2 linked regions of the Homo sapiens genome follow. The protein of the gene in region 1 interacts with the protein of each later gene in a pairwise test. Each region holds a gene or a part of one and is shown in the gene's direction. Other genes may lie near its edges.

Region 1 (15,906 bases):
TGTATAGATGTGTGGAAGAAGCCAGACAGGGAAGGAGCTCAGGAAGGAGAGGCTGAGAACTGAAGACGAAGCACAGCTTTTCTGAAGCTGCATTCCTGCCCCTCACATACCTTCAAACGCCCTCAGACTCAGACATACTTCCTCAGACATGGCTGAGAATGAACTCTTAAATGTATCTGTCCCAAATTCTTTAATGTCTGAGGCCACTGAGAGACAGAAGAGAGAAAGAGTCCCCAGACGGAGGGAACTTAAGATGGAGGTCTCTGACTCTGCCACTTCCACTGTAGCCTCTTGCCCAGTTCTGCTCCTTGATCCATCATAGGTCAGCATTAGCCAGTAAGTGGCCTAAGCGCACACGATTCAGGGAAGAGGACTCTGCAGGCCAGAAATGAGCTTCCTACAAAAGAGGAAGAGTTGGTTGGGTGTGATGGCTCACACCTGTAATCCCAGCACTTTGGGAGGCCAAGGCGGGCGGATCGCTTGAGGTCGGGAGTTCAAGACGAGCTGGGCCAACATGGCGAAACCCCATCTCTACTAAAAAGAAAACCCCACAAAAATTAGCCAGGCATGGTGGCAGGTGCCTGTAATCTCAGCTACTCAGGAGGCTGAGGCAGGAGAATTGCTTGAACCCGGGAGGCAGACGTTTCAGTGAGCTGAGATGGGCAACAGCTGTCTCAAAAATAAAAAATAAAAAAATAAAAAATAAAGGGAATGAGTTGAGGGATGTCATCTTGGCTGTTATCCTACTTTATCTTCATGGGCATCTGGGTTGTAGGCAATGGGTGAGAGGCGTGGGACAGCACGGGCTTCGGATCTTTTTTAGCTGGTTCTTGCATTCTTTCCCCTCACTTCCTTCAACTTTCAAACACCACTCCGCTCCCTTTGTCTGCCCCCACTGTTCCGTCTTTTCCTGTTCTAATTTTCCTTTGCCTTCTCACTTTCTGGGGTTCAAAAGGAATCCCGGAATATCATCTATTGTATGTGTGTGTGCATATTGTATGTACGTGCATGCAGGGTGTGTGTGTGCTCGTACATGTGTATTTGGGGGGCTGTGCTGAGCTTTTGTAGCCAGCCTAATGATAGGACATCCTTCAGATTATCTGAGCTTTTCTTGTAAAAACGTCCTTACCCTGTACATACCCACTTCCTTATTCTTCTAAAGAGCTTGTGGAAATGAGCACAGCCACCCAAATGAGAATAAGCAAAGGCTGTTTATTCAGAGTTGGCCACAGATGGCAGGTAACCACCATCACTTGCATTTGGCAGACACTCACAGTAGGCAGGAGAGTGGGAATCTTCACAATGGAAAACAGGAAAGGCTTCAGGGATGCTCTGGTTGCAGGCTGCGGCATGCAGAAGCTGTAAGTGGGCTACTGGAAGCAGGGCATCCTATGTGTTGGATTAGGGATGCATATTGGCTTTCTCTGATTGGTCCTAATTTGGGGAAGCGGAAATAAATATTAGGGAACTTTTCAGTTATTAATCAAGTCCATAAAGAGAGACTTTCAAGCAAGGAAAAAATTAAGAAATAAAATAGGGGTAATCAAGTCCTAGCTGTTTGGGGCCAATTGCTATAGGAGTTGTTTGGCTTCCTGGATTGTTTGCTGTATATAGTGGGTTGGCTTCTCATACTTATTGCTGGAGACTACAGGTCAGAGTTCCATCTTTATATATGGTCTGGTCATTGTTCATTTGTATGGTCAGTCTTTCAGTCCCTCCTTTTGGTCATTCTCTGACTTCTGAGAAGTTGACCAACTCAGAGAAAGTTAGAATTTCACATCTTCACCAATCATAAATTGTTCAGTCATCTTCATAGTGACCTGGATTGTAAGATCTTCTTGATCTTTCTATTGTATCATTATGGCAATCATCTGATGACAGAGTGGCTGCTAGAAGCATTTAAAACTCTGGATAAAACGGAACAGACTAGCATCATGACCACTATCAGAAAAATAAGAAACAATTGATAGTCCCTCTGAGATGCTTTAGAACCAGGAACTCCAATTGCTTAACCTAGGCCAAGAAAACAAATCCCATAAGCCATGAGGACCTTAGAGATCCAAATATTAATAGGTTTTTTTTTGAAGCAATATAGTCTTTTTTTTTTTTAACCTTGCCTGTGTCCTTGACCTAAGTATCACAAGAAGCACTGGCAATGGTGCAGACAAAATCGAAGTGGCCTTCCAACTGTGTGGAATTTTGAATCTCTTCTTCAGTTGTGAAACATGAACCCAAAGGTTGGCTCCTTGGAGTTTCACTGCTGTATCTATTGTTAACAGTATCTGATAAGATCTCTTCCTTTTGAATGAAGTTCAAAAGCAGTTATTCTCTGATTTTTCTTCCAGTAGACAAATCCACTAGTTGAGGATCATGGAGAGGTTGTTTAGGAAGATTTTGTAGGAAGGGGACCTTAACCTGTTGGTGATAGGACCACGTACAATACATGAGTCCCTTGCAGTATCTTGTCATGTCTGCATGGAGTAGGACAGACTCTAGTATTGGAGGTGAAATCTCTAAATGCATGGACCTTCCCGGTATCAACTCATAGGGGGATAACCTATGTGTCTCCAAGAAAGTGGCCTGTATATCCGTAAAGGATAGTGGATATACTCTTGGTCAAGGGAGCTCAAGGGTTTCTGAAATTGTTGCTTATTTTAATGTAAGGATGCCATGGGTCGTTTTTGTGGGTGGTAAGGATGGTGTAGTTTTTGAGTAAGAGTTCTTTTATAAAGGTCGCCTTAAAGTGTGTGCCTCAGTCACTTGATATAAAAGGTGGGATGCCCCAGATTGAAAACATAAAATCAAGCAGCTTGTTCACGGCTGTAAGGGCTGTAGCATTTTGGCAAAGAAATTCTTCAACTCATCCTGAAAACAGACATACAATATCTAAAACATATTCAAATCCCAGGGAGAGTGAAAGCCGGTGAAGTGTCTTGTGAAATAAAATTTAAGCAAGGCCATTGATTTGGACTGGGCTCCTGCACTAAGCCTAACAGATCAAACAGATACGGTGTGTTGTTTGATCTGTTAGGCTTAGTTGTTTACAGGCTTACAATATGTTGCAGCTGAGCTTTAACTAATTGCAGGAGACTCTGTAACCAATTAACCAATTAAGCTGCCTCTGTACCATGCTTCTTTTGTCTCCTATAAATGCTATCAGATTATGTCATTGGTTGGAGTTCTCTGAATTTCCTCTAGTTCCAAATCGTGCCTGATTTTTGAACTGCTTTTTTTTGTTTTGTTTTTGCTTTGTTTGCTTTGTTTTGTTCTGCTTTTCTTTGCTCAAATAAACTCAGCTAAAATGTACACTTGTCTAAGGTTTTATTCCATGTAACAGTCCGAAGGTGTCCAAAGAGGCTTTGGTTTCTGGCCATGTCCCAACTTTACAGTTTTTCCAGAGTTATATTTTTGACAGGTGACACATGACCCAAAAGTAAGCTCAGTTGCCTTTTCAAAGTTTTCCTACCAATGTTTACTTAAGATAGTAACCAATTTGTCTATGCCATAATGGGTGTTTCATGGAGAAATCCAGATAATGTAGGGGAGGAAATATCTTTCTTATTTGTCTTAAGTTCTAAGGCGGGGCTCTGTAACAGAAGGCAGATTAAAAAGTGAAAAGCATACACATTTATTTAATGTAAGTTTTACATGGCATGGAAGCCTTCTGGAAATGAACCAGTCTGAGTGGATGCTTATATACTAAGTTAGACAAAGAACAGTAAATTGTGAAAACAAGTCAAAGGGATATGGGCTAGGGCTGTTAATCGTGGAGAAGTGGCTAGGGAGATAAGGGCTAGTTTAACAAGGTTTATTTGTAGTTTTCTCTCAACCTCAGCTGCCCCCATCTCTGGTAATAAGAATGTCTTCCTTCTTCCACGGAGGGTCCCTGCTACGTGGGAGCATTGTCTCCTGCTTTTAGAAAGATCAGAGTGCCCTTCTTGCATCTGCTGTTTTTCAAGAGCTTTTAATTCAAAATAATCCATATGCCAGAAAGGCATATTTTGGGGTGGTATGTTTTGAACTCCTTTAGAAATATCTACTTGAGATCATCTGGTGTCACCAAGCAGCACCAGGAATTATCTGAGTGAAGAGTACAACTAGATGTTTTCCATTCTTTTTCAAAATCAGGGGCTAAATGTCAATATTTTATAATGGCCTCTTTGAATCCCCCAGAGATTTATCCTTTAAAGGTATAGATAGAGTCATAAGCTTGGTTAAAGTAGCTTCTTTGGCATAATGATCTGCTAGAGAATTTCCTTTAGTTTCCATATTGTCTCTTTTTATATGGACCTCTACCTATATAATAGCCACTTCTCTAGGAAGTGGGGGTGCATCTGAAAGTTCCTTAACTTGCTGTCCATTTCTAATGCCTATTTTCTTTTCTTTTCTTTTCTTTTTGAGACGGAGTTTTTGCTCTTGTTGCCCAGGCTGGAGTACAATGGCACGATCTCGGCTCACCGCAACCTCTGCCTCCTGGGTTCAAGCGATTCTCCTGCCTCAGCCTTCCTGAGTGGCTGGGATTACAGGCATGTGCCACCATGCCCGGCTAATTTTGTATGTTTAATAGAGACAGGGTTTCTCCATGCTGGTCAGGTTGGTCTCGAACTCCCAACCTCAGGTGATCCACCCGCCTCAGCCTCCCAAAGTGCTGGGATTACAGGTACGAGCCACCATGCCTGGTCTTCTAATGCCTATTTTCAAAGCATCTCAAAATCATATGCTATTTCAAAAGCATACCTGCAGTCTGTATATATGTTTGCTCTCTGGTCTTTGTTTAGGTGACAAATTCTAGTAAATGCAATACATTTTGCTATCTGGGCTGATTTTACTGCAGGTAGTAGACTTTTTCTTAAGAAGAGTTTAAAATAGGGGTAGCATAGCCTATTAATAATGTAGGGAACCAGAATATGCCAGCTCAATAATTTTGAGTTGATTATTTTGAAAAACAGTAAATGCAGGAAAAACTCAAAAAACAGGGCTCATCATTTCCACAGCTGCCTCTCCCCTCTTCCTTCCCTGCTGTGAAAGAACTATAAATGTCCTTTTTTTTTTTTTAAACAGTGTCTCTCTCTGTCACCCAGGCTGGAGTACAGTGGTACAATCACGACTCACTGCAGCCTCCATCTCCAGTGTTCTTCCACCTCATCCCCCTGAGTAGCTGAGACTACAGGAGCATGCCACCATGCATGGCTAGTTTTGTATATTTTGTAGAAAAAGGGTTTCGCCACCTTGCCCAGGCTGGTCTCAAACTCCTAAACTCAAGCAATCTGCCTGCCTTGGCCTCCCACAGGGCTGGGATTACAGGAGTGAGCCACTATGCCTAGCCAAGTTTCCCTTTTGTAAGAGAAATTTCCATTTATATTCCCATTTGTATGGATGTCTCCCTTTCCTGTGCCAGGAAGAGGAGGACTTAATCACGGAGGACTTATCAATGGAGAAGACAACCAACTTGAATTTGCTTAACAAACTTTACTAAACAACCCTTATATACTATACATTTCCTAGTCCGCTTGTCGCAACCTCCCCAGAAGCTCAAAATCCCTTTCCTATGTGCAGAGACAAAAGTGACTCCATCTTGAATGCTAATCTACCATGTTGACGTCTGATTAACCATGTCCCGGGAATGCCTCCTGATTTCTACTTTATTTACTGTCTCTAGTGTAGAAACATGTATTCACTATAAATCCTGCCTTTAGATCAAAACAACCTTAACGTTATCATGCAAATTATGGGCTATGACAAACACAGCATTCTTGCCTGTTCTGAAGAGTTGCCTTTCATTGTCTCTATATAGCACGTACCCCTTTTCCCTATGGTATATAAGCTCTGGGTCTGGGGAATAACAGTGCTGAGATTTACATGTCTTGCTGCTGCCCAAGACGACACTTCTGGCTATAAGTTCCCCAATAGAATAAAACACGCTTTACTGACAAACTGAATTTGTCTGCCTTTCTTTAGTTTCTAGGCTCCTTCAGCATTTGGGGCCACTTCACATATGTGGCCCTTTCATGGAACACTGTCTTGTCACTTCTGCACAATTTTCTTTGTCAAAATGGCCTATAAACTCTCAGGTTTAATTGCTTCTTTGAGTCTTCACTTCTTTTTTTATGAAGACTTCCATATTCATGTAGAATATTAATATTAAATTAAATTTTTATGCCTTTTCTCCTGTTAAATCTGTCTTTTGTCATTTTAATTTACAGGGCCCCCAGCCCTCTAGGAGGGTAAAGGAAGAATTGATTTTTCTTTCCTCAGTGTACTAACTTCAAGTTTCAATTCTGGGGTATGTTCCATCAATAAATCATATTAGGTCCGGGTTCTCAATAGGAGTTGCTAATAAATCTGACTGACATGCAGAATGTTTCCTACTGAGGTAAGACAATCAAGAGGCTCCCCTTCTGGTAGGGACAGAGGGTGGCAGAATTCAGTGTGTTGCAGAGATGAGTAGTAATTTATGAGAGGGAGAGAGGGATAGAATCTTATAAGAGGTTAATCGGCTGCCTGAAGTGTGCAGTGAGTTCTCAGTCAGGTGTAATGCCTGTGCTGCGTGAGAAACCAGGAGGTCAAGCAGGGAGTCTAGAACAAGTTCAGCAGAAGCAACAACAAATGTTGCCATGGCATCTACTGCCCTAAGACAAGCGGGGCTATGCCTCTGCAACTGGGTCAAGGATAAGGCTGCAGTAAGGGCTTCTGATGGTTCCCCATTGAAGTGCAATTAAAGCTCCAAGGGCTTGTCTAGATTGCTATGCATAAATAGACAAAATGGCTTCCTGTAGTTTCAGGATTCCTAGGGCCAGGGGCTGTTGAAGAGCCTTATTATAGTTACAGAAGATCTGTTCACATCTGAACTGTGGTTCTGAAATCATCTTGCTGGGTGGAGGCCACTTTTGTGCAGCCACGCCCAGTGCCTTAGTGGGGTCCACCTGACTAACCAAACCATCCCACCAGGCGCCCTTCAGGTGAGTCCTGTGCCTTATTTATGTCTGTATCCCACAGTCTAATGAATGAATGAACACATTCTAACTTGACTATTCAAGAGAATAAAAGTATTATTAAAGACTCAGAAAAATAAAATACAGGTGGGGGCTGGGGGAGTAAGGAAACTGTAGGGGCCAAGGAAAAATTCCCCTTTCACCCTCCAAAGGTTTGCTGAAAATCAACTGACAAAAGACAGATTGATAGGAAAAAACGCATACAAATTGATTTGATCGTAGTTTTACACGACACGGGAGCCTTCAGAAGACCCAAAGATAACAGGGGAAAGTGGGCATTCTTACACTTGGATATCAACAAAGTATGAACAGCTGTGTAGAAATATGACTGGACAACAGGGCGATCTAATGAAAATAGACTGAGTGGGGAAACCCAGCAAGGCCTCCCTGTCTAGATTCTTCTTGGCCTCTCTGAGCATTCGTCCTTTTTTTCTGGGTATGGGGGGCAGGACCCTCTCTGGAATGAGGATCTTACGACCTACAATCACACAAGGTAGGTCAGATAATTTCACTATGGCCACTTTTTACACAGAAAGGCTGAAACAATCTGAATACACAGCACGAAGGGATATTTTGATAATTCTTAGAGGTATCCAAATTGTTACTCAGCAAAAAAACAGGTCTCTTTCTAGGAGGGCATTCTGCTGCTAATAAATATGATATTCTTTGTATTTTTTCCCCAAAAAGAATTTGAGATTTGGGATTTAAGTTTATCTTTAGTTCCTCTACTCAATTCCGACCTACAGGGTCAGTGGTTACTGTAGATAAGAACAGCCCCATCCTCTCGATGCCCCCAGAGCAGGGGTGGAGGGTGGGTGGGAAGTGGCCAGAACTGGGTGAGCGCACCCTAGAGGCCTCCTCCTCCTCCCTATTCAGTTACTCCCCCTTTCTTCTCCAGATCTGGGAAGCCTTCCAGCTGGGGGCAGCAGGACAGCCTCCATTCCCCCCGACCCCGCCTCCCATCCCCGGGAGAGGTAGCGTTGGGAGAATGCCCTCCTAGAAAGAGACTTGGGTTTTGCTCCCTAGGAGCCCTGGAATAGCTTTGGCCAGAATTCCCTATCTCCCATTAGAACCTCTCCTTTGCGTCCTTTGTTAACCTCCAAGTCTACTTGGTGAAAACGCCCACGAAGAAGTAACAAGGACTTTGTTCCTAGTGTGCCAGGTTTGGGCACCAGTGCTGTAGTGGCTTTCTCTGCTGCTCCTTGTGCATCAGCAGACAGATGTGGTTCACATAGGAAGAAAGACTAACGTAGGCAAAGATTTGCTCTTTCTTCAGCAGCCCTAGAAAGACGGCGGCCTGGGTGATTCACCACTCCTTCCTCACGTCCTTGATTTTATTTGAACTGAGCTCCAGATGCTCCTCCCACCCTTTTCCTCTTGGAAGCCAAACCCCTTTGTAATCTGTATAAGGTCCACACCCCGGGAGCTGAGTGATTGCAGAAACTGGCCTTCCATCTCTCTCAGACACCAAGCTGCAGATCCAGGTAAGCAGCCCAAGAGGTGTTCTCAGGTGCCGCTTCTGCTTCAGGGTTGCAGAAGAGGGAGCTAGGGCCAGTCCACAGCACTGAGAAAGATTGGGTGATGCTAGCGCTGAAAAAATGTGGCCCAGGCAAACATCAGCTGGGGGCAGAGGGGTCAGGGTGGAACGTGCAGGCTGCAGAGCATCCATGGGACTGGAGAAGAAGGAGCCTCCAAATTGGGGGAGGCCAGCGTTTCTCTCTGGAATACAATGGAATCTTTTATGATGCCAGTGTCAGGCACTGGCCTGAGTTCCCTTATGCTCCAAGACAACAAGGCTCTGTCACCCATGGCCCTGGATGTCGGGGATACAATTTGGTTCATGATTTATTCAAACTGATGTTTCGATGAGCCATTTGAGCACTGGGTACAAATGTATTTTGGATCAAAGAAACTCCAGTATTCAAAGATAGGAACTGACAGGATTTTAGGTCACTTTGTAGGTCACCACCTAGAGGGGAGGAAGACCTCGCTTTGGAGAGTGGGAATAAAACGCTCGTGGAAAAGGGTACACGTGAGTGTCTCATTACACGAAAAACCTCAGGAAGTAGGATGGACGTCTTTCTGGCTGACCTGAAACAGAAAGTGTAAACCAGGCAAGCCATAGGTGGGAGCTGGAGTTCTTTTTCTAAGAGGGCTCTTTTCCTTCTCTCTCCTTTTCTCAATTAGGCTTTTCTGGGAAAGTGAGGCCACCATGGCTCTGGAGAAGTCTCTTGTCCGGCTCCTTCTGCTTGTCCTGATACTGCTGGTGCTGGGCTGGGTCCAGCCTTCCCTGGGCAAGGAATCCCGGGCCAAGAAATTCCAGCGGCAGCATATGGACTCAGACAGTTCCCCCAGCAGCAGCTCCACCTACTGTAACCAAATGATGAGGCGCCGGAATATGACACAGGGGCGGTGCAAACCAGTGAACACCTTTGTGCACGAGCCCCTGGTAGATGTCCAGAATGTCTGTTTCCAGGAAAAGGTCACCTGCAAGAACGGGCAGGGCAACTGCTACAAGAGCAACTCCAGCATGCACATCACAGACTGCCGCCTGACAAACGGCTCCAGGTACCCCAACTGTGCATACCGGACCAGCCCGAAGGAGAGACACATCATTGTGGCCTGTGAAGGGAGCCCATATGTGCCAGTCCACTTTGATGCTTCTGTGGAGGACTCTACCTAAGGTCAGAGCAGCGAGATACCCCACCTCCCTCAACCTCATCCTCTCCACAGCTGCCTCTTCCCTCTTCCTTCCCTGCTGTGAAAGAAGTAACTACAGTTAGGGCTCCTATTCAACACACACATGCTTCCCTTTCCTGAGTCCCATCCCTGCGTGATTTTGGGGGTGAAGAGTGGGTTGTGAGGTGGGCCCCATGTTAACCCCTCCACTCTTTCTTTCAATAAAACGCAGTTGCAAACACCTGATTTCTGAAGCGGTTCTGTCTAGGTACTGTTTCTGGCATTGCCTTCCAGCAAGGGGTAAGAACTGTAAATCTGATTCACTTTGGAGAACGGTGAATGGAGTAATTAAATGCCTTCCCTTCTGACTTGGATTTTAGTGGCTTGAGAAAATTCCTTTCCTTGTAGATTCCCTGATGCCAAACATAAAACTGTTAAGTGTGGGCTGTTTTAGACAAAAGGGAGCTACAGCCTGGGACACTGCCATGCAGGGTGAACTGACAGAGGGGTGAAGCTCAAATACAATCATTCTCTGGCACAGAAGGAAGGCAAGTGTGACCTCAGGAAGATCCTGCTTAGCCTCAGGGTGGGGAAGAGGACTCAATGAAATTATGATCCTAAATTTCCATTTTCCTTTTTTTTTTTTGAGTGAGCTATTACTAAATCAGAAAAATGGGCACCTCTTAGTTGGAAAGCCAGAACCTTACATTTTAGAGCCAGAAGTGACTTTGGAGAGCACGGAATTGAGGGATAGCAAGTAGATTTCAGTTTGTGTACCAACTCTAATTGGAAGTGCCGGTCGGGCGTGGTGGCTCACACCTATAATTCCAGCACTTTGGGAGGTTGAGGCAGGTGGATCACCTGAGGTCAGGAGTTCAAGACCAGCCTGACCAGTATGGTGAAACCCCCTCTCTACTAAAAATACAAAAAGTAGTGGGGCGTGGTGGCAGGTGCCTGTAATCCAGCTACTAGGGAGGCTGAGGCAGGAGAATCACTTGAACCTGGGAGGCGGAGGTTGCAGTGAGCTGAGATGGTGCCACTTCACTCCAGCCTGGGCAATAAGAGTGAAACTCTGTTTCAAAAAAAAAAAAAAGGAAGTGCCTACCCAAAATGCTGTAGCAAAAAATTCTGGACAGTGGTGTGGTTGAACAACAGCCTCTATCGAAGGCACGAGAGGGGGAAGGGTGTGTGTGCCACACATTTGCCATCCCTGACCAAATGTGACCCCTGCCTTTCCGGTGACTTGCACATGGCTTGTTGCTAGTTAGTGGCACAGCCGGGACTACACCCTAGGTTTCCTGACTTCCAAGCCATTGTTCTAACTCAGGAAGCCATTGCTCTAACTCAGGAAGAAAGCTCCCCTCCTCAGTAAGTGCTGTGGAGCGGTAGCTCTCTCCCAGAGCTTGCTGGTGGGCTCTCACAGGCTCCCAGTGTTCTTAGCCTGTGAGTCCACTCCACTCTTGGCAACCCTTCCTGACAGCCACTGAAAGACTACCTTTGGCATCTGTCAACACTTAACCTGGGAGGCAGAGGTTGCAGTGAGCCGACATCGCGCCACTGCATTCCAGCCTGAGTGACAGAGCAAGATTCCATCTCACAGGGTGGGGGGTGGGGAAGCTTGCCATATAAAGAATACTTTCTGCAGGGCCTGTGCGGAGATCCACTGTCTTGTGGCTGCCTGAGACATGGCTTCTATTTGTAAGTCCCTATTAAATGTTTCTTTCTGAGAAACTGAACTTGTCATGAAGTGGGATTTAAGGAACCAGAGAGACCAGATGGCGTGCAGGAGGGTGTTTATTTTAAGGTGTACACTGGCCCAGCGGACTTGTGTCCTAAAAGGCTGAGCCCAAGAACAAAGAAAATGAGTCCCTTTTAAGCATTTTGAGGCAGGAACTAAGTGAAGCAGGCTTACAGAAGTGAGAACAAAAGGCCGCTGTGACACTTTTGGAACATGTCTTACATCTCTGTGAGAACTTGGTTTGCAGCTTATGCTTATCTGTCTTGTGACCTTGCAGCTGTGCAGGGAAGAAAGAAACAGGAGTTTACAGAGCCTACAAAATATGTGGAGGATAGATATGGTTAACGTTTCTTGGGACAGACAGTTAATATTCTCTTCTAACTTTAACTTCAGGGGGGCTACTTAAATTCTTTTCAGCCTTGGTTAATACAGCAATTCATTCTATGAGCTATTGTTATTTCTCTTATTATTATTACGTATGCTATTATTTGTTATTTTCTTAGTTTCCTACTTCAGTCAAGCCCTTTCTTTGGCCTCTCATCTCCCTCAGCCCTTGGGGGTACATTGGCATAGACCTGCTCACTGCAGAACAAGGAAGGAGGAAGCAGGAGAAACCAAACCTGCCATACCGTGTTCTTGAACTTCTGGCCTCCAGTGAGAAAATGAATTTCTGGCTGGGCATGCTGCCTCACGCCTGTAACCCCAGCACTTTGGGAGGCTGAGGCAGGAGGATTGCTTGAGCTCAGGAGTTCAAGAGCAGCCTGGGCAACATAGTGAGACCCCCGTCTCTACAAAAAAATATTAAAAAATTAGCCAGGCAAGGTTGCAAACACCTATAGTCCCAGCTACTCGGGAGGCTGAGATGGAGGATCACTTGAGCCTTGGGGGTCGAGGCTGCGCTCCAGCCTGGGCAACAATGAGACCCTGTCTCAAAATTTTAAAAAATAAATAAATAAATAAATGCATTTCTATCGTTTGAGCCGCCCATTTTGTTATGGCAGCCCTAGGAAATGAATACACCCTTTAACCAATTCTTCCACTTCTCTTGGATTGCATCCGTAGCTGCCCTGACACATCCCTATGGCGGGCTGGTCTAAATTAGATGCCACGGTGGTGGGGATGGGGTGGCTGTGGGGTGAATAGAAGTGTCTGTGGGGACAAATGAACATCTACTTCTTCCTGGGACAGCTGGATGGAGTGGAGGGACTTTAGAAACCGTTAACAGGTCTTAGGGAACTGGCCCTGCGTCCCTTCTGAGGCTGCTGTAAGGGGAAAAGAAAAAGTAGGGGCATGAAAGCCCTTGGCAAGATGTGAAGCGAGGCAGCCTTCGTGCATGCTTGGTCAGTTGTGTACCTCCAGCTAGTTAGTGTGCAACAGCCCTCACGCTTCCTCTGCAACTTCTCCCCTGCCATCAGCTGAGCTTTCATGTTCTCAGTTCATGTTCTCGGTTCATGAGTGTTCATGTTCTCAGTTACTCTTGGAATATGGTTCAATTCAGAAATTCCCAATGCACTATTAATGAACATAGAGAGACGGATATACTATTCTACCAAAAAAAAAATCTGCCCTTTTAAAATCCAGGGAATGTCTGGACATACACATTCTTAAGTCAAAGGAACATTTTTCTAGCATTTGTGAAAGAAGGAGTGAATGAATGGAGGTTGGAAGGAGTGCAGTAGTTACAAAGATTGGCTTATTTTTTATGGGTCTAGCCTGGATTTTAAAAACCTGAGACAGGATAACAACTCCAAGTGCCTGTGGGACTTCTGTAAAATGGAAATATTCATAACACTTAATTAGAAGTACTGTGGTAAAGATGACATTCAGAGAAAGCGTAGTGTTCAGCGTTCTGTGGACACTCAGAAAGTTAGCCACTATCACCGAGGCATGGGGTATGGTGTTTCAGAGCCTTGGCTCTGGAGTGAAACAGACCTGTTTCACACTCCACTGTGCCTTTTGGGAGTAGTGTGGCCGCAGGCAGGGAACGTAACTTTTTTAACATCAGGTTCCCTATGTAAAATATCATGATAAACATGGTATCAACTTCAGAGATTTGTTGAGGATTAGTTGAGGTCACATATAAAAAATATTTAGGACAATGTCTGTCCATAATAAAAGCTATTACTCTTAGAATCAAGAATCATACATCCTATTCTATCACTTGCATGCAACCAATCAAGACTGGGGACAGAATTGACAATGTCTCACTACAGTTTTCTGTATTTATAATTCAAGGTGCCAACATATGATTTTTGTTTGTTTGAGGGCCTCAGATGAAAGAGGGGCCAGGAACATTAGTACTGGAACTCACAGGAGTATGAATTCTATCATCCCAAGAGAGGGGATAACCAGAGATCTAGAAAGCACAGAAGATCAGGCAGAGACAGTAGAAAGGCCTAAACTTGATTTCAAGAACCGACTCTCAAAAGAGTGAGTATAAAACCAGTGTATACACCAAGTACAGTCATGTGTTGCTGAATGATGGGGATACAATGTGTCATTGAGTGACTTCATCATTGTTGGGAACCTTACAGACTATATTACCTAAAACTAGGCAGTATAGCTTGCTCTACATCTAGGCTATATGGTATAACCTATTGCTCCTAGGTTACAAACCTGTTCAGCAGTTTACTGTACTGAATACTATAGGCAATTGTAACACAATGGTAAATATTTGTGTACATAAACATAGATAAGTTACAGTAAAAATATGGTATAAAAGGTAAGAAATGGTACACCTCTGTAAGACACTTATGTGTGGAGCTTATAGAATTAGAAGCTACGGCCAGGTGCAGTGGCTCACGCCTGTAATCCCAGCACTTTGGGAGGCCGAGGCGGGTGGATCATGAGGTCAGGAGTTCGAAACCAGCCTGGACAACATGGCAAAACCCCGTCTCTACTAAAAATACAAAAATTAGCCAGGCATGGTGGCATGTGCCTGTAATCCCAGCTACTCAGGAGGCTGGGGCAGGAGAATCACTTGAACCTGGGAGGCAGAGGTTGCAGTGAGCCGAGATCGTGCCACTGCACTCCAGCCTGGGTGACAGAGCAAGATTCGGTCTCAAAAAAAAAAAAAAAAATTAAAAGTTGCTCTGGGTGAGTCAGTGGGTGAGTGGTGAGTGATTGTGCAGGCCTAGGACATTGCTGTGCACTACTGTAGACTTTATAAACACTGTATCATTAGGGCACACTGAACTTATGAAAAAATTTTCTTTCTTCAATAATAAATTAACCTTAGCTTACTTTAACTTTTAAACTTTATACATTTTTAAATAAAAAAAATTTTGACTCTTTTATAATAACACGTAGCTTAAAACACATTATACAGCTGTACAAAAATGTTTTCTTTGTATCCTTATTCTATAGCTTTTTTCTTCTTCTTCTTTTTTTTTTTTTTGAGACAGGATCTCGCTCTCTTGCCCAGGCTGGAGAGCAGTGGCACAATCTTGGCTCACGGCAACCTCTGCCTCCCCACCTCAGCCTCCTGAGTAGCTGGAACTACAGGCATGTGTCACCATGCCAGCTAAGTTTTGTATATTTTGTAGAGACAGGGTCTCACCATGTTGCTCAGGCTTATCTGTTTTTTTTTTCTATTTAAAAAAATTTTTAAACTTTTTTGTTAAAACTAAGATACAGGCTGGGTATGGTGGCTCACACCTGTAATCCCAGCACTTTGGGAGGCCGAGGCAGGTGGATCACCTGAGGTCAGGAGCTTGAGACCAGCCTGACCAACATGGCAAAACCCCGTCTTTATTAAAAATACAAAAATTAGCTGGGCGTGGTGGCACATGCCTGTAATCTCAGTTACTTGGGAGGCTGAGGCAGGAGAATTGCTTGAACCCAGGAGGCAGAGGTTGCAGTGAGCTGAGATTGCGCCATTGCCACTATATATATATGTATATATATATTATATATATACACATATATGTATGTATGTGTGTATGTGTGTATATGTGTGTGTATATATATACACACACATATATAAATTATATATATTATATTATATATATTATATTATATATGTGTGTGTATATATACACACGTGTATATATATACACACGTGAGTATATATACACGTGCGTATATATACACATGAAATGTAACATAACATTTTCTTTTTTTTTTTTGAGTTGCTCTGTCTCTCAGGCTGGGGTGCAGTGGCATGATGTTGGCTCACTGTAACCTCCACCTCCTGGATTCAAGAGATTCTCCTGCCTCAGCCTCCTGAGTAGCTGGGACTACAGGCACACACCACTATGCCCAGCTAATTTTTGTGGTTTTAGTAGAGATGGAGTTTCACCAAGTTGGCCAGGCTGGTCTCAAACTCCTGACCTCAGGTGATCCACCCGCCTTAGCCTCCCAAAATGCTGGGATTATAGGTGCGAAGTACTGCGCCCAGCCTAACATAACATTTTCTAAGTAACATTTGGGTCAAAGAAGAAATCAAAAGAAAAAAATTAAAATATATACAATATATAAAAAATTGGGTGATGATAA
Region 2 (15,874 bases), on another chromosome or scaffold:
TCAAGACCGTCCTGGCAAACACGGTGAAACCCCTGTCTCTACTAAAAATACAAAATAGCCGGGCGTGGTGGCGGGCGCCTGTAGTCCCAGCTACTCCGGAGGCTGAGGCAGGAGAATGGTGTGAACCCGGGAGGCAGAGCTTGCAGTGAGCCGAGATCGCGCCACTGCACTCCAGCCTGGGAGACAGAGCGAGACTCCACCTTAAAAAAAAAAAAAAAGATAAGCAAACATGAATCACCATCGGTCATTTTCTACCTTGCAAATTCAGTTCCTAGCTCAGTAAATAGGTGTTGAAAGAATAAAAGGATTGGCTGGGTGCGGTGGCTTACGCCCGTAATCCCAGCACTTTGGGAGGTCGAGGTGGGCGGATCACCTGAGGTTGGGAATTCCAGACCAGCCTGACCAACATGGAGCAACCCCATCTCTACTTAAAATACAAAATTAGCCTGCCGTGGTGGCACATGCCTGTAATCCCAGCTACTCGGGAGGCTGAGGCAGGAGAATCACTTGAACCCGGGAGGTAGAGGTTGCGGTCAGCCAAGATCATGCCACTGCACTCCAGCCTGGGCAACGAGAGTGAAACTCCATCTCAAAAAAAAAAAAAAAAAAGAATGAAAGGATCTACTAGGACCTGTCAAGGCAGGGAATTGAAGGAAGGTGAACTAGAGGACCCTCCCATCCTCAATGTCAGGAGGGGTGGAGGAGGAGCCTGGAGTTCAGACACCCTAGGGTCCTTTCCAGACCCTCAACTATATCTGTTATGCCTGCACCCAGTGTGCATCCCAGACCTTCCTACCTCATCACTCACTTTCCTCCATGAGGAAGAGCTCACCCTCTAGACCTTCATCCCTCCTCCACTGGAGAAATGACTCCCAATGCAGCTCTTCCCCCACTGGTTGACATCCAGGAACCAGAGGGCCTTCCCTGGCACCGGCGGCAGCTTCACAGTCTCTGACCGGAGTCCCCAGGCCTTGCTTAACACCTTCCACCTCTGTCCTCTCCCAACATCCATCCATCCACCCCCACATTCGTTTTTGTTGTTGTTTTGTTTTGCTTTGCTTTTAGACAGAGTCTCACTTTGTCACAAAGGCTGGAGTCGTTCAAGCGATCCCCCCACTTCAGCCTCCTGAGTAGCTGGGACTACAGGTGTGCACTACTACACCCGGCTAATTTTTAATTTATTTTTTGTAGAGCTGGGGTTGGGGGTAGTCTCCTGTGTTGCCCAGGCTGGTCTGGAACTCGTGGGCTCAAGCAACCTTCTCCCCTGACTTTGCCCCCCTCAGCCTCCCAAAGTGCTGAGATGACAGGTGTGAGCTCTACCTGTTCTTTGCAGCAATAAAATACTTCTGGATTTATGACACTTGTCTCATTTACAATACCCTGCTTAATGAAACATCAGAGGTAGAGCCCAACTATTGCTGCAACACAAAAGGGAGAAGGAATGCTCTTATTTGAAAATGCTCCTACCCCAGGGGACATCTGGCAAAGTCTGGAGATACTATATTTTTGGTTGTCAACAATGGGATAGGGATGCTATTGGCATTTCGTGGTAGAGGCCAGAGGGGCGGCTAAATGTCCTACAAGGCACAGGGCAGCCCCCTACAACCAAGAAGTATCTGGCCCAAAATGTCAACTGTGTTAAGGTTGGGAAACCCTGGCTTAGAGTATTTTGGCAAATACTGTTTCACTTGTGCTACCTCCTTGTGAGGCAACTGGCCGAGAAGCCTGGCTTAACACTTCCTGGTGATGTGTCTGTCTTTTGTCTCCTCACCTGTAAGACTTGAAGGGAAGTGCACCCTCCCCACTGGGCTGCCGTCAGGGTTGAGGGAGTTAATATCCATAAGGCGCTCCAGGCTACTGCAGCCTGCCTGGAAGCTGAAGGAAAGGTGGGGGCATTGTAGGACACCTTGAACCCAGGTCTCCCAACTTCACAGGACTCCCTTCCTCCGCCCAGGAGTTTTAAGGAAGAGGAACTTCCTGGTGGGACATATTGAGTGCCAAACGTGTGTTCACATAAAAAATCAAGAGATCAGGGCATGAGTCTGCATCTGAAAACTCGAGTAAAAAATCCGGTGTATGCTGTTAATGGAAAGAACAGAATATGACACTTGCATGCCGCATATTCTCACTTCGTTCCTTGGGGGTGTGCTGCTACCTCTGGTCACTGGCATCGGACTTTTCTTCCTTCTTTCTACTTTCCTACATCTCCCAAGTTTTGTATTTTGAGCATGTGTTAGCATTATAACTGCTAAACAGGAAAGATGGCCTTTAAAAAGAAAGTGAAGTGTAAAAGTTTGAGGGTGATGAAATAAATGTGCTTGAGGAAGAAAAAGCAATCTCAGTTTAATCCTATGGTTGCCCCAGGAGGCACTAATTTATCCCTTCTGCTTTTCAAGTGAGGAAGCTGCAGCTTGGCGTAGTTCTGGGGGGAGTATGAAGCTGCCTTGGTTTAGGTGATGGAGCACAGGTCCACAGACATGTGTGGGTGCATCTGTGGCAGGGGAGAAAAGAGCATGTGTCCAGACTACAGCTTGTTCAGAGCTGGGACACTGACAATAGAGCACGCACTGCGTGCGTAGGTGGGTGTGTCTCCGATCCTCCAGCAGTGACAGGGACGAAGCCTTGCCCTGTGGGATGACTCAGGCCACTGGCCAAATGTTATGTCTCCATGTTCAAGTCCCTCTCCAACTTCTCCTCCTGGGACAGAAACAGATGGCAGCGGAGCAGGAGAAGGTGGGGGCAGAGTTCCAGGCACTGAGGGCTTTCCTGGTGGAGCAGGAGGGTCGGCTGCTAGGCCGCCTGGAGGAACTGTCCCGGGAGGTGGCACAGAAGCAGAATGAGAACCTGGCCCAGCTCGGGGTTGAGATCACCCAGCTGTCCAAGCTCAGCAGCCAGATCCAGGAGACAGCTCAAAAGCCTGACCTTGACTTTCTCCAGGTAAGTCTGGCTCAGCCAGGGGCTCGAGTCATTTATCCTAAGGCATCAGGACCAGCAGCTAGAGAACAGTGTCAGTCCTGGGGGGTCTAGGAGAATCACATGATCTGGAGCTGAAGGGGACTGGAGAGAAGTGCCCTGATTTTCCTGGGGTTGGAGGTCTAGAGAGATGTGAAAACTTTCTTGACTATGAGCCACAATAATATATATCGTATTTCAGAATCACAAGCTTGAGACAAAAGTCTCAGAAAATAATACTCACCTTTGCTACACGTATGCACTTTGATGTTTTCTATTCTATTTCGCTAAAAAAAAAGTTATAAACAACTAGATAAACTTCACAATCCATAGATGGGTTAAGAACAGTCATTATGGGGCTGAGTGAGCAGTAGGTGCATAAGGGCTGTGACCTCCCTCAGGTGGTTTCCAGGACACACGCAGCACTGGGTCCCATGGGATAGCTCCAGTGATGATTCTGTAACTAAGAAAGCAGCAAAGATAGAAAGAAAGCACGTGAAGAGTTGTGGCAAAGGGTGAGAGGTCCACTGCGTGGGTGAGACACCCTGCAGCCAGCAGCCACTGGAAGCTGCTGCCCCTGAGGCCCACGCAGGCAGTGAGGCGTGGCACACTTGCTTATGCTTACATCTGGGAGGCACAGCAAGGGGCAAGCTTTGTTTCTCAGAGGTGAATGGAGGTTACCTGATGCTGATTTGGTTTCCTCTATCTTTCCTTCCAGGAATTCAAAAGCACGCTGAGCAGGTGAGTGACCTCACAGCTCCTGGGGCCTCTCTAAGTTGCTTCTTCCCTTTTCACTGAGCCTTGTCTTTATTCCCTGTCCCCTGACCTCTCACCTCCTGATCCCCCGACTTGCTTGCCTGGGGACCTTCCGAGACAAACGCCCACCTGCCTGGCCATGGGTTTTTCTGCATGAGGTCTGGCTCTCCCTTTTCTACCTCTTTCTGCCAAGAGGACCTCGCCATCCTAATTGTCACAGCCTGTGGGAGCAAAATGGTGCACACAGGCCCTTCTCAGAGCCCTTGTCCTGCAGGTGTAGCAATGTGCCTGGCCCCAAGCCAACCACAGTCTCTTCTGAGATGAAGAATAAAGTCTGGAATGTTTCTCTCAAGACCTTTGTCTTAAAAGGGATGCTGAAGAAGTTCAAAGGTAGGGGCCTGGGCGCCAAGCTGGGCCACATAGTGCGGTGGTGGTGGAGGGTTCCTGGTAGCTCAGGGGTCCCTGGGTGTGCTTTCCAGAAGCTGTGTGTGAAAATAGGAGCTGGCTGTGCCATGGCCAGATTGGTGTAGGGGCTGTGGTGGCAAATCTAGTCAGGCCCCCGCAGGGCATGCCGCTTCTCATGGGCACAGATGGGGTAGAGGGGTACTGCTGGGGGACTGGGGTTAGGAAGAGAGCTGTGCAGGGGAGCTCAGCTCAGAGCCACTTGGGTAGAGCTAGAATGCTTGGGTATGGGCCCCCTGCCCCCCGCTCCCCATGCTTGGCCCTGTGCCTGCACGTTCACTCTTGGCCTTAGGAGTCTCTGGGGAATGAATGAGTCAGTTGGGATATAAAGAGCTGGTGACCTTGCCATATAATCTCCCGTGTCGCTCATGCACGCCTTGCTTTGTTTCTCCTCCTCAGAGGACCTTCGGGGAGAGCTGGAGAAAGAGGAGAAAGGTAGGGATGGTGCTGTGATGGCGAGTATGGACTGTCTGCCACACAGAGATCCTACTCCCTGCTCGTGACCATCTCAGGGTTTTGCATATGGTCGGTTCCTTCAGCCCACCCACCTCAGCAACCCTGTTCCTCTGTCCCCTCCCCCACACCACCCCCTCCCCATCCTGGGAGCTCTGACACCCTCAGATGTTGGCCCAAATGCTGCAGGTTGGTTAGGAGCAGGAATGCCCTGTACCTCGAGATACTCAGACTGGGAAAGGCTTCTCGGCCACCTGGGTGAGCCTCTACCCGGTCCCCACTCCAAGATGGATGGAAACCTCTCCTGGGAATGGGGTGTATACAGGGGACCAGGAAAGCAAGGGGAAGCTAAAGACTGGAAGGAATATCGTTTTTACTCTTGCAAAGCTCTGGAATGTGTGGCATCCAACACCCAGAGGAGGGGAGGGGAGGGCACATATTCCTGATGCTGATGTCTGAGCTAAGTCAGAGTGTGTCTGGGTGCCACCTAAAACACCTGAGTGAGACCAGGCCCTCCTCTGCTCAGAGCCCTGCCACAGCCCCTCTGACTTGGTAAAGGTCAGAGTCCCCATGGAGGTCTCAAGGGCCCACGGGCTCTAGCCTCACTGCACACCCCTTCTACTCCACGCAGCTACACATCCTCCCTGCTGTTCCTTCAGTGTACCAAGCACACACCCATCCCGGGGCCTTTGCACTGCCAGGCTCCCCCACCCCAGGCCCCTACCTGGAGCATGCTTTCCCCAGCCAGTCCTGTGGCCTGCTTCTTTGCCTTCTTTATATCTGTCTGCTCGATGCCCCTTTTCAGTGAGGGTCTTCCCTGGCCACTCTGGTTGAAGTTACAGCCTGCTCTTCTGGTCCCTCTCATCTTCTGTTTATAATCTATCCTCAATCCTCTCCCTGTGGGAAGGAAGCTGCAGGCAGGCAGGACTACTCTGATACTCTGTGGTACCCCCAGGGCCTCAATCGTAGTAGTGCTCACAGTAAGTGTACATATTTTAACTTTTTTTTTTTTTTTTGGAGACAAGGTATCGCTTTGTTGCCCAGGGTGGAGTGCAGTGGAACTGCAGCCTCCACCCCGCAAGCTCAAGCGATCCTCTCTCCTGGGCGTCCTCGAGTAGCTGGGACTACAGGAGCACACTACCATGCCTGGCTAAATTTTCTATGTTTTGTGGAGACGGATGTCTCGCTATATTGCCCAGGCTGGTCTCCAACACCTGGGCTCAAGCTGTCTTCCCACCTCTGCTTCCCAAAGTGCTAGGATTACAAGCATGAGCCTCTACACCTGGCCTTAACTTTTTATTATGAAAAATTTCAAACATACTCAAAAGTAGAGAGAAGAGTGTAAAGAATGTTACATACCCATCTCTCACCGTCCGCAGTGATCAATTAGTGGCCACAGTTTTCATAGACACTGCTATCCACTTCCTGTGGGATTATTTTGTTTTCTGAGACAGGGTCTTACTCTGGAGTGAGATCATGGAGTACAGTGGCCTGATCTCTGCTCACTGCAACCTCTGCCTCCTGGGTTCAAGCGATTCTCATGCCTCAGCCTCCCAAACAGCTGGAATTACAGGCACAGGACACCATGCCGGGCTAATTTTTGTATTTTTAGTAGAGAAAATACAAAACAAGTTTTCCGCCATGTTGCCCAAGCTGGTCCCAAACTTCTGACCTCATGTGACCCATTGGCCTTGGCCTCCCAAAGTGCTGGTATCGCAGCTGTGCACCATCTCACCCGGCCTCCACTGTATTATTGTTATTATTATTTTTATTTTTGAGACAGAGTCTTGCTCTGTCGCCCAGGCTGGAGTGCAGTGGCGTGATCTCAGCTCACTGCAATCTCCACCTCCCGGGTTCATGCCATTCTCCTGCCTCAGCCTCCCGAGTAGCTGGGACTACAGGCGCCCGCCACCACGCCCGGCTAATTTATTTTATTTTTTTATTTTTAGTAGAGACGGGGTTTCACCATGTTAGCCAGGATGTTCTTGATTTCCCGACCTCGTGATCCACACACCTTGGCCTCCCAAAGTGCTGGAATTACTGGCGTGAGCCACTGCGCCTGGCCTACTGTATTATTTTAAAGCATCAGAGACAACATATCATTGCCATAAATACCTCAGTGTGTTATCTCTAAAGAAACAGACTTTGTAAAACATAACCACAAAGCAGTCCTCACACCTGGACAGATTAATGATTCTTTCCAATGTCTAGCATTCAAATATCCCCATCTGTTGAATTGGGGTTCAAACCAGGCCCACACATTGCATTTGTTTGATTTCAGTAAGTACTTGTTGAGTGGTCGGGGCGGGGGGAAGCAAAATCTCTGGGAGGCAGAGCGTGGGGGTTGGTTGGGCCTTGGCGCTGGGTGCTGGGGGGATTCTAGAGGGAAAGGCAGGCAGGTTGCAAAGCAAGGTCGGGCGCGGCCCTGCAAAGACTGTGCCAGGGGCCTGGCTGCGTGGGGACATTTCTCCCTGTCTCTGTCTGCAGTGGAGCTCACCTTGGATCCCGACACGGCCAACCCGCGCCTCATCCTCTCTCTGGATCTTAAGGGCGTGCGCCTCGGCGAGCGGGCCCAGGACCTGCCCAACCACCCCTGCCGCTTCGACACCAACACCCGCGTCCTGGCGTCCTGCGGCTTCTCCTCGGGCCGGCATCACTGGGAGGTGGAGGTGGGCTCTAAGGACGGCTGGGCCTTTGGCGTGGCCCGCGAGAGCGTGCGCCGAAAGGGCCTGACGCCCTTCACTCCCGAGGAGGGCGTCTGGGCCCTGCAGCTCAACGGCGGCCAGTACTGGGCCGTGACCAGCCCCGAGCGGTCGCCCCTCAGCTGCGGGCACCTGTCGCGCGTGCGGGTGGCCCTGGACCTGGAGGTGGGAGCCGTGTCCTTCTACGCTGTGGAGGACATGCGCCACCTCTACACCTTCCGCGTCAACTTCCAGGAGCGCGTGTTCCCGCTTTTCTCTGTTTGCTCCACGGGCACCTACTTGCGAATCTGGCCTTGAGGGGCACTGCTGGGGAGCTCCTGTCTCTGGGCTGCCGGTGGGAGGGGATGTCGCCTCCCCAGAGATGCCTGGTCCGTCTTGGGTCTGCCCTCCGTGCTCCTGACCCCTGCTGCCCAAGAGAGCCTGCTACAGACACAACCCCGAGGCAGGAGAGTGACTGTGGCCAACCGAGCAGGGGAACAGGGGCTTTGGACTCCTGAGGGTGTTCCCTTCCTGAGGTCACATGTGGATTTGGCCAGAGCCTTCAGGAGGTGGAGGCCGGTGAGGTCAGGAGCCCAGCTCTCCAGGGGGCTTCTGCCCTGACTGGGAAGGGTGCCTGGCTCCCTAAAACAATGTCAAAGCCAGTCCTGCTGTTCTCTGTTGCCAGGGGGCAGGTCTGGGCCTGGGCCAACCACGTTTGTTATCATGGCTGCTGCCTTCTGGACAGCTGCCAGCTCTGCCTTGAGAGGTTGTGGGACCTCTGGATCCAGCTGACCTGACAGGTCATCTACTCAGGGAGGAGCCCTGTGCTCCCAGCTCAGAGGACAGTCTGGGCCAGAACTGGAAGGAGACATCTGTCCCGTCTTTGAGTGACAAGCCCGGGACAACAGCCAGTGGGCATCACGGCTCTCCAGCACTCCTTAGCCGGAGGATACAGAGTGATGGGTGCATCCTGACCAATGCGACAACCAACACGTGCTCTCACAAACCCCTGACTCCCGCACTTTCCAGTGCCAAAGTACAAACGCTGCTTGGATAAGGAGAGCAAAGCTTCTGGAACTTTATTTACTCTTTCTTTTTAATTTTCTTTTAAGAGACTGGGTCTTGCTATGTTGCCCAGGCTGGTCTTGAACTCCTGGCCTCAAGTGATCCTCCAGTTTCCATCTCCCTAAGAGCTGGGATTACAGGTGTGAGCCGCTGTACCCGAACTTTTTTTGTTTTTGCTTCTGGAACTTTGAAACACAAAACACAAGTTGGCACTTACAATTTTAAAGATGCAGCCAGCTCTAAACAACACACAGAGCACAAATATGCTCCTGACGGACTCAGGAAAATGCCAACAGCAGAGCACCCTGGTGCCAAGGCCTTCTCAGCCCATGCCCTGGAGGGCATTCCCCTGGCCAGCCTCAGCCCCTTGTCTACTTGTTCTCCAGCTTCTGGGTAGCTGGGCTTCTGGAAGGGTGGCAGTGGGCTACTCCCTGCTCAGCGCTCCCCTGGGAAGGGGGTGAGGAGATGAAAATGAAACTATGAGCTGTCTTTGGAGTTGGCTTGGCCCATTTTCTACTCCCTAGATCTGAGTGCAGGAGCGTAAGTGTGATCAGGGTTTCTGCCAGAGTGAATGAGCATGCATGTTTCTGTGTGGGAGGAGTGTGTATTTGTATCTCACCTTTCTTGGGGGTGTGTGTGTGTATTTTGGAGAGGGCATTTATGAGCATGTGCATAAGGTTCAGGTGTTGCAAACAGACCCAAGTCAGTCTGGTCATACCCTATTGTTGATTTGTTGTTAAATACTGACCACCTCATATTTAGACAAGGGCCACAGGTTTCTTCTCTCACTACCTGGCTACCAGGCTAGATGAACAGAATACCAGACTCGGACCTAATTCTGTCCCACACAAGTTATTTAGACAGAGGTGCTGGCAAACAGGGGCAATGATAGCTGAATAGCCCTGTGTCATGGAGCTTCAGTGCTCTGTCTCTGAGGTGCTTCAAGCTCACCTGGCATATAGGGTTCTCGTGGGGCAGCCACAACACTATCCCAGAGGCAGGCCCAGTTGACACAGCACCAGACAATCAGAATACCGCATCCTCCAGGCTGAGGACAGGGTCATTTCAAAGTCCTGCCTACAGAAGCATTCCAGAGAGTGAATCCTATGTCCTGCTCATACATGGAGAGCAGCTCTAAAACCGGGTAGCCAATTCAGGCATTTGAATACCACTGATTTCCACAAGGAAAACCGATCTCTAACATTAATTTCCTAACTGAATCACCTATTGTTACCGTTAAGCCTTAATGTTATCTGGCTTGTATGGCTTTTTGATTAAGTATCATAATTCCCTTTGTACCATCCAACAAATGTGCTGGGCATCACAACACACATTACAGGTCCCAGAAAGTACCATGTCTGGTGAAGGTGTCACATGAGGGTCAGGTCTGGGGACTGGGAGTAGCTGTCCGCATGTTTATTTTCCGTTTTTGTGTCCATGAGTGCAATCGTGTGTCTATCAGAGTGTGTGTGTTTGCAGAGTGACTACATATATAGCTATGTATCTTAAGAAATGTAACAACAGTTACTGTAACAATTGCATAGAGAAGGGAACAGATGTTCTTTCTTGCTAACCAGGGCAGTACAGTAACTTGGATGTCAGGATGCTGGTGTCCTCGAGGGCATGTGTGTGCATTTCCCTCTCCTAGACTCTGGGCATCATAAACTCTAGGGACCTCTGGGTCTGTGAGAACAACTGGCCTAACTTGGGCCCTTCTTATTCAACCCATCAGTCCTAGCTGCTGACCCATAAGCGCAGGCCTCTGCCGCCAGACCCTCACAGGGACCCTCAGCATCCAGAATGGGGGGCACCTAGAGGCCCACCTCTGGCCTGGCCGCCCAGTGACCCAAGTCACCCGGCATTGCAGGGAGCACAGGGCAGGCTAGGCCACCAGACCAAGGTCCACCTCCTACACCCACCACTTTCTGTCCTTTGCCAGGCTGAGCCCTCATCCTTTTCCCCTCTCCTCCGGCCCGTGGGCCCTTTAAGGGCCCTGACAGAACATGTCAGGGTGTACCCTAAAAGCTGCCTTTTCCTACTTCATCCAAATGTGAGACGGGGCTGGCACCCACCCGCAACCTCGCCTGGACCCTTCCCACCCCAGCGCCTCCAAACACCTGGCCCTCCTGATTCCCCGCCTCCCCCGCCACACTCCCGCTGGGCCTCCACCTCCTGATGACCCCACTGTTCCCCCACCGCCCAGCTCGCCCCAGGTCCCGCCCTAACCTCTCGGATCTGGACTCCCTGCAGGACGGGCGCACTGACACCCTTCCCTGACCTTTCCATAGCCTTGACCTGGATCCCCGCTTCCTCACGCACAGCAAGACGCAAAACGTGCTCCCCAATCCTGCGCACGCCCTTCCCTGGCCCCCGCCCCGCCCAAGGCCCGGGGCGGTCCTCACAGCTCGGAGCTCGGCGGTGCCGCCCCGCCCCGACAGCTCCCGCCCGCGCGCGCGCCCAACGACGGCACTGTCTTCGCGGAGCCCTCTGCCGGGACTAACGGCCGTTCCGTGCCACGGACGCACGGGCAAGATGGCTGCGGCCGTGGGAGGAGCTTGGGTCCAGCAGCCACAGAACTCGGCCGAGGGTTCAGCGGACTGCGGCTGCGCGGCGCCGGCGACAGCGTCAACTGCTTTTGTGTCAAAAGGAAACCAACAGCCGGCTCCATAGCTCAGGGGTTAGAGCACTGGTCTTGTAAACCAGGGTCGCGAGTTCAAATCTCGCTGGGGCCTGCTTCCGTCTTTTCCTATTCTTTCCTTAAAGATAGAAAAGTGGAAGATAGGCAAGCCTACTTCCGCCTTCCTGGGAGGCCAGAGCCTGGCGGAGTCACTTTCTTTTTGCCTCTAAGATACCCACCGCGCAAGGCTACTTTCCTACCACTTCCTTATCTCTTGAAGAGTCAGACCCACTGCGGGCTTCCTTTTCCATCACGGGTTCCCTGGGCCCCGCGCGCCCTCTCCCCACGACCCCGCTCACTTCCTTCTGCGCGCTCCCCGGGAGCGTCTTTCCGCTTCTCTCCGGTCTTCCCACTCCAGCTAGGGACTCGCCCTCGTGTCTCCTTCCCTCTCTCCAGGGGGAGACGATGGCACTACCGCGCCCCTTCCCGCCATGCGTTTGTTTGCGGCGTTCCCCGACGCGCGCGCTGAGGCTCTGGTCTGCGGCTCTGCGCTTGGCGGCTGCGCGCCCTCGGCCTTCGGGTCCCCGCCGCCTCCGTGCTGCAAGGTCTGATTTCTTCCTGTGGAGTTAACACGGAAAAGCGCAGACGGCCACATTCATGACCCGGGAGTAACGGCTCTACCTGTCACATTCGCTTTCAGCCTAAAACAAAATTTTAGTTTATTTTAGACAAAATATATAACTAAGGTATGCTGGCCTTCTGACTGATTTATTCTTGCTGTTAACGGAAGTGTAGAAAGTGAGCCCAAGTCCTCAGTGAACAGTGGGGGCGCTGCCCAGGTGCAGGACTGGCCCCCTGGGGGTCTCGGGACGGCTCCCGCCTCCGTCTTCCCCGCACCGCGCACTTTGGAGGCCTGGGCACAGGTGGAGGCGGCGCTGGGTCCCGCCGTACACTCCCCTGTCGCAGGCGCCCTCTCTCCAGCCGGAGGGAACCTCAAAAAAGCTCTGAGCGAGTCCCCGTCCCAGGTGGGGCCGCGGCTTATACCGGGACCACTCCAGGGTAGCTCAAGGTTCGAAAACGGAATCCCTGTCCGGTGAACCAGAGAAGAGAAAATCGCTCGGGGCCACCTGGGTAGAGACCGGAGGGGTGACTGCCTTGACTGGGAGGCGTGGAGGAGCGAGCGGGGTCTGCGGCTCCGGCCGGGAGGTATGCGCTTCCCTCTCTCACCCATGCCTGCTCCGGTCCAAAGAGCCGAGACCGTGGGTCAAGACCGGGATGGATTCGCTCGGGAGAGGCCAGGAGCCTGCCAGCACGTTCGGGCACTAGCGCTCCCGGGGCTCCTCGGACTCGTGGACCCCGAAACGCCTGCCCCACAGGAAGATCACCCCACTGTAGAAGTCGGGTCACGGGGACCAGTGGCGAGCTACCTGACGGCTTAACTACAGATACCCTCCCGACGAAAGCCGTGGACTCCCAGGGTGCGTGCGTCTGCTTGTGTGTGGGGGTGTTGGCAGGCGGTCCCCATAATCATCGAAGAGACAGGTGGATGAACCTCAGGCCTCGCACTCGGGGGCTCTCAGAGTCTGGGCGTTACAGCCGCTCCCGTACACTCACGGGTCACCTGGCTGAATCAGGTGGGATCTGGGTGAGGTGCCGGGAGGTCTCCCAGGCTGGCGCTCCTGTCCAGCTGCTGGGGGAGGCGTGGGTGCGAGGCTTGGGACAAGGGAGAGCTATGCCGGGTGGGGAGGACCCTTGGGGCGGGTCCGTTCACCTGAAATGTTCACTGCTGGAAGAGCCGAAAGCCAGCCACGGCACCCAGGGGAGTCCAGCGTGGAGAGGCAGAGAGGAGGGGCGAGGACAGTGGCGGTCGCAGACGGCGGAGCAAGATCGCCGAGCGTGCGAATGGAAAAATGAGCATTGTTTCCTCGGAGTAGCTTAACCACCATCCCACGCTGTTTTACAGCAGTGTAGGAAATGTCTCTGCTGGTGACACAAAAATAAACCTGTGCATCAGCTCTGAGTAGATTATCGCGAATTTTACAGCAGGAAACCGCATCACTATTTTTACTACTAAATAAACCAGTGCAATTAAAGTGCGCAGGGCGAGAGTAGGTCTGAGGCGAGAAAAGAGGAGCGCGCCCGCCCAGCTCGAGCCTCAGGCTTGCCCTGTGCTGGAGGCGGCCCGGGGGCAATCCCGGGAGAATGCTGCGAGGGCTGTGAGCCAGGACCCCGACTCTGCACCGCGGGAGCGCGCGCGCGTGGGTCCCAGCCTCCGAGCTGTGCAACAACCCCGTGGCTAGAGTCTCCACGAGAAGACAGAGTTCCTGGTCATCGGTCGTTTCCGCCTTACACTTTCCTACATTTCCTGAAGATTTTGCAAATGGGTATGCACTGTTTATTATCTTTTCATAAAACGGTAAGAGCGGCTTCTGGGGGCTCCTCACCCAGCCGGTCCGGCGTTCCTTCCCTCTCAGCACTGCGCTCTCTCCCGAGCCCTCCGGCTCTACCAACCTCTGTGTCCTGCCCCTGGGCCTCAAGATTTGCGCCTTTCTTGGACTCGCTTGGGAAGGGGCGCCCAGGCTGCAGAACGGATGGACGCTCCTGCCTGCTACTCGAGTGGATCGAGCAGGGAGGCGCTCATTCGGATTCCAGGAGACCAGAGGACACAGGACATAGGGAGCGTTTACCCTGTGTGGAGCTACCTGCGGCTGAGAATTAGTGGCAGACGCGGAGATGGGCAGCGGGGACAAGTTGGGCTTGGGAGACTATAAGACCTTGAGAATGGGTTCAAGCTGCCAGACGGAAATCCGCCTTTTCGGTGAATCGAGCCATGAAGAACACAATCATGAAAAGATTCAGCGAGCAACTAGACAGCCGGCTCGTTGGTCTAGGGGTATGATTCTCGCTTTGGGTGCGAGAGGTCCCGGGTTCAAATCCCGGACGAGCCCACTTTTTCATTTTTTTTTTTCCATTTCAACTGAAGTTCTTCTTGTTCAAATCCTGGATGAGCCAGCTTTTTAAATTTCAACTAAATTTTGTGTTACCTTGACAGTTTTGATCCCGAAAGATGTCCAGCGGAGGCATCACCAAGATTTCCGGGAGTGCTGGGGATTGGAAAGAATCGTGGATAGGAGACTAAGCGAGCCGTCCCGGAAGCAACAGTTGCTGTGAAGACTTTGGGCACAGACCTGCACGTGAGAGTATGCTCTTGAGGGTTGTGGGGGCTCTCCTTTTACAGCTAGGGATCACTTGTCGAACGTACCCGGAGAGTAGCTGCTAGCAGACAATATTATGGCGACAGAGGTAGGTGTGGGTTTCCGTAGTGTAGTGGTCATCACGTTCGCCTAACACGCGAAAGGTCCCCGGTTCGAAACCGGGCGGAAACATGCCACAGTGTTTTTTTTTTTTTTCCCCCCCCTTTCTTTTGAGATGGGGTTTCGCTCTTGTTGCCCAGGCTGGAGTGCAATGGAGTGATCTCGGCTCACAGCAACCTCCGCCTCCCAGGTTCAAGCCATTCTCCTGCCTCAGGCTCCGGAGTAGCTGGGATTACAGGCATGCGCCACCACGCCCGGCTAATTTTGTATTTTTAGTAGAGACGGAGTTTCTCCATGTTGGTCAGGCTGGTCTCGAACTCCGGACCTCAGGTGATCCGCCCACCTCGGCCTCCCAAAGCGCTGGGATTACAGGCGTGAGCCACCGCGCGCGGCCCCGAAGCGGTTATTATCTCATTACACGCTCTTATTACACTGGAGACTAACCTAGAAGATCCCACTAGTATGTCCACCTGGTGGTCACAGCGGCACAAAGAGAAGAGGGCATCTACGCTTTTGCTTTCCATTCCCAACCACCCGCACCTGTGAACTCAATCCAGTTTTACTTGCTGTGGACAAGCTCGGCACAGAGCTCATCCACTGGACAGCGGCACGCTGCCAAATGGAACCCCGCATCTCGAGTATGTGTGGGGCCCATTACTCCTTTTGTAACCCATAGGGGACAAAAGTGACAAAACTACCACAAACTGGCAGCGGTGGGATTCGAACCCACGCCCCCGAAGAGACTGGAGCCTTAATCCAGCGCCTTAGACCGCTCGGCCACGCTACCTCTTTGCCGCTGGGTATTTACATATTTTCCTTCAGTTATGAAGCGTGCGAAGGGGCTCTGGGCCAACAGGGAGTTGGGGCGAATCCACAGGGCAGGACCATGGCAGGATCCGCTCCGCCAAAGCCACTGGCTGGGAAACGGCTCCACCAGTGCCCTGACACAGGATTCTCAATGCCCAGGCCTCAGGATCTGCTTTAGGAAGGCCAGTCATAAAGCCACCCTCTTTGGGGAATGCACTCCAGAGCAGGGGAAGACTTCGACACTCTCACTTCAAAAAATCAAAAACAAATACAATGAAAAATAAAATAAAATAAAAACCTAAAGAAAAACAAGCAAAAAACCCCAGCCTGGGCAACATGGCGAAACCCTGTCTCTACAAAAGATGTAAACATTAGCCGGGCGTGATGGTGTGTGACCATAGTCCTAGCTACTCAGGAAGCTGAGCCCAGGAGGTCGAGGCTGCAGTGAGCCGAGATCGCCCCACTGCACTCCAGCCTAGGTGACAGAGCAAGACCCTGTACCAAAACCAATCAAACAAAAACAAAACAAAACAAACAAAAAGCCCCAACAACAACAAAGCAGACAACAAACTGAGAGTATGTATTGACTTTATGAGTCATGAGCAGAAACGTTCTTAGCAACTTCATTCATAATAACTCACTTATGGAAACAGTCCAAATGCCCACCATCTTCACATTGGATAAATAAAATTGTGTACAGTCTTATTTTATTTTATTTTTTTATTATATATATAGTCTTATATGGGATTATTATAACACTGATAATG

Evidence for each region.
Region 2: the proteins of RNASE1 (region 1) and TRIM7 interact in binary tests that used the Homo sapiens proteins (3 or more experiments, as listed by UniProt).

Annotation. Positions count from the first base shown.
Region 1 is NC_000014.9:20,795,367-20,811,272, reverse strand, and holds RNASE1 (ribonuclease pancreatic precursor), read left to right. Parts: upstream 1-8,428; 5' UTR 8,429-8,476; intron 8,477-8,908; exon of another isoform or gene 8,909-9,024; intron 9,025-9,179; 5' UTR 9,180-9,204; coding exon 9,205-9,675; 3' UTR 9,676-10,045; downstream 10,046-15,906. UniProt on the Homo sapiens protein: Endonuclease that catalyzes the cleavage of RNA on the 3' side of pyrimidine nucleotides. Acts on single-stranded and double-stranded RNA.
Region 2 is NC_000005.10:181,186,914-181,202,787, reverse strand, and holds the end of TRIM7 (E3 ubiquitin-protein ligase TRIM7), read left to right. Parts: exon of another isoform or gene 1-200; intron 201-1,771; exon of another isoform or gene 1,772-2,634; coding exon of another isoform or gene 2,635-2,706; coding exon 2,707-2,937; intron 2,938-3,670; coding exon 3,671-3,693; intron 3,694-3,982; coding exon 3,983-4,098; intron 4,099-4,569; coding exon 4,570-4,605; intron 4,606-5,906; exon of another isoform or gene 5,907-7,110; coding exon 7,111-7,622; 3' UTR 7,623-8,864; downstream 8,865-15,874. UniProt on the Homo sapiens protein: E3 ubiquitin-protein ligase that have both tumor-promoting and tumor-suppressing activities and functions in several biological processes including innate immunity, regulation of ferroptosis as well as cell proliferation and migration.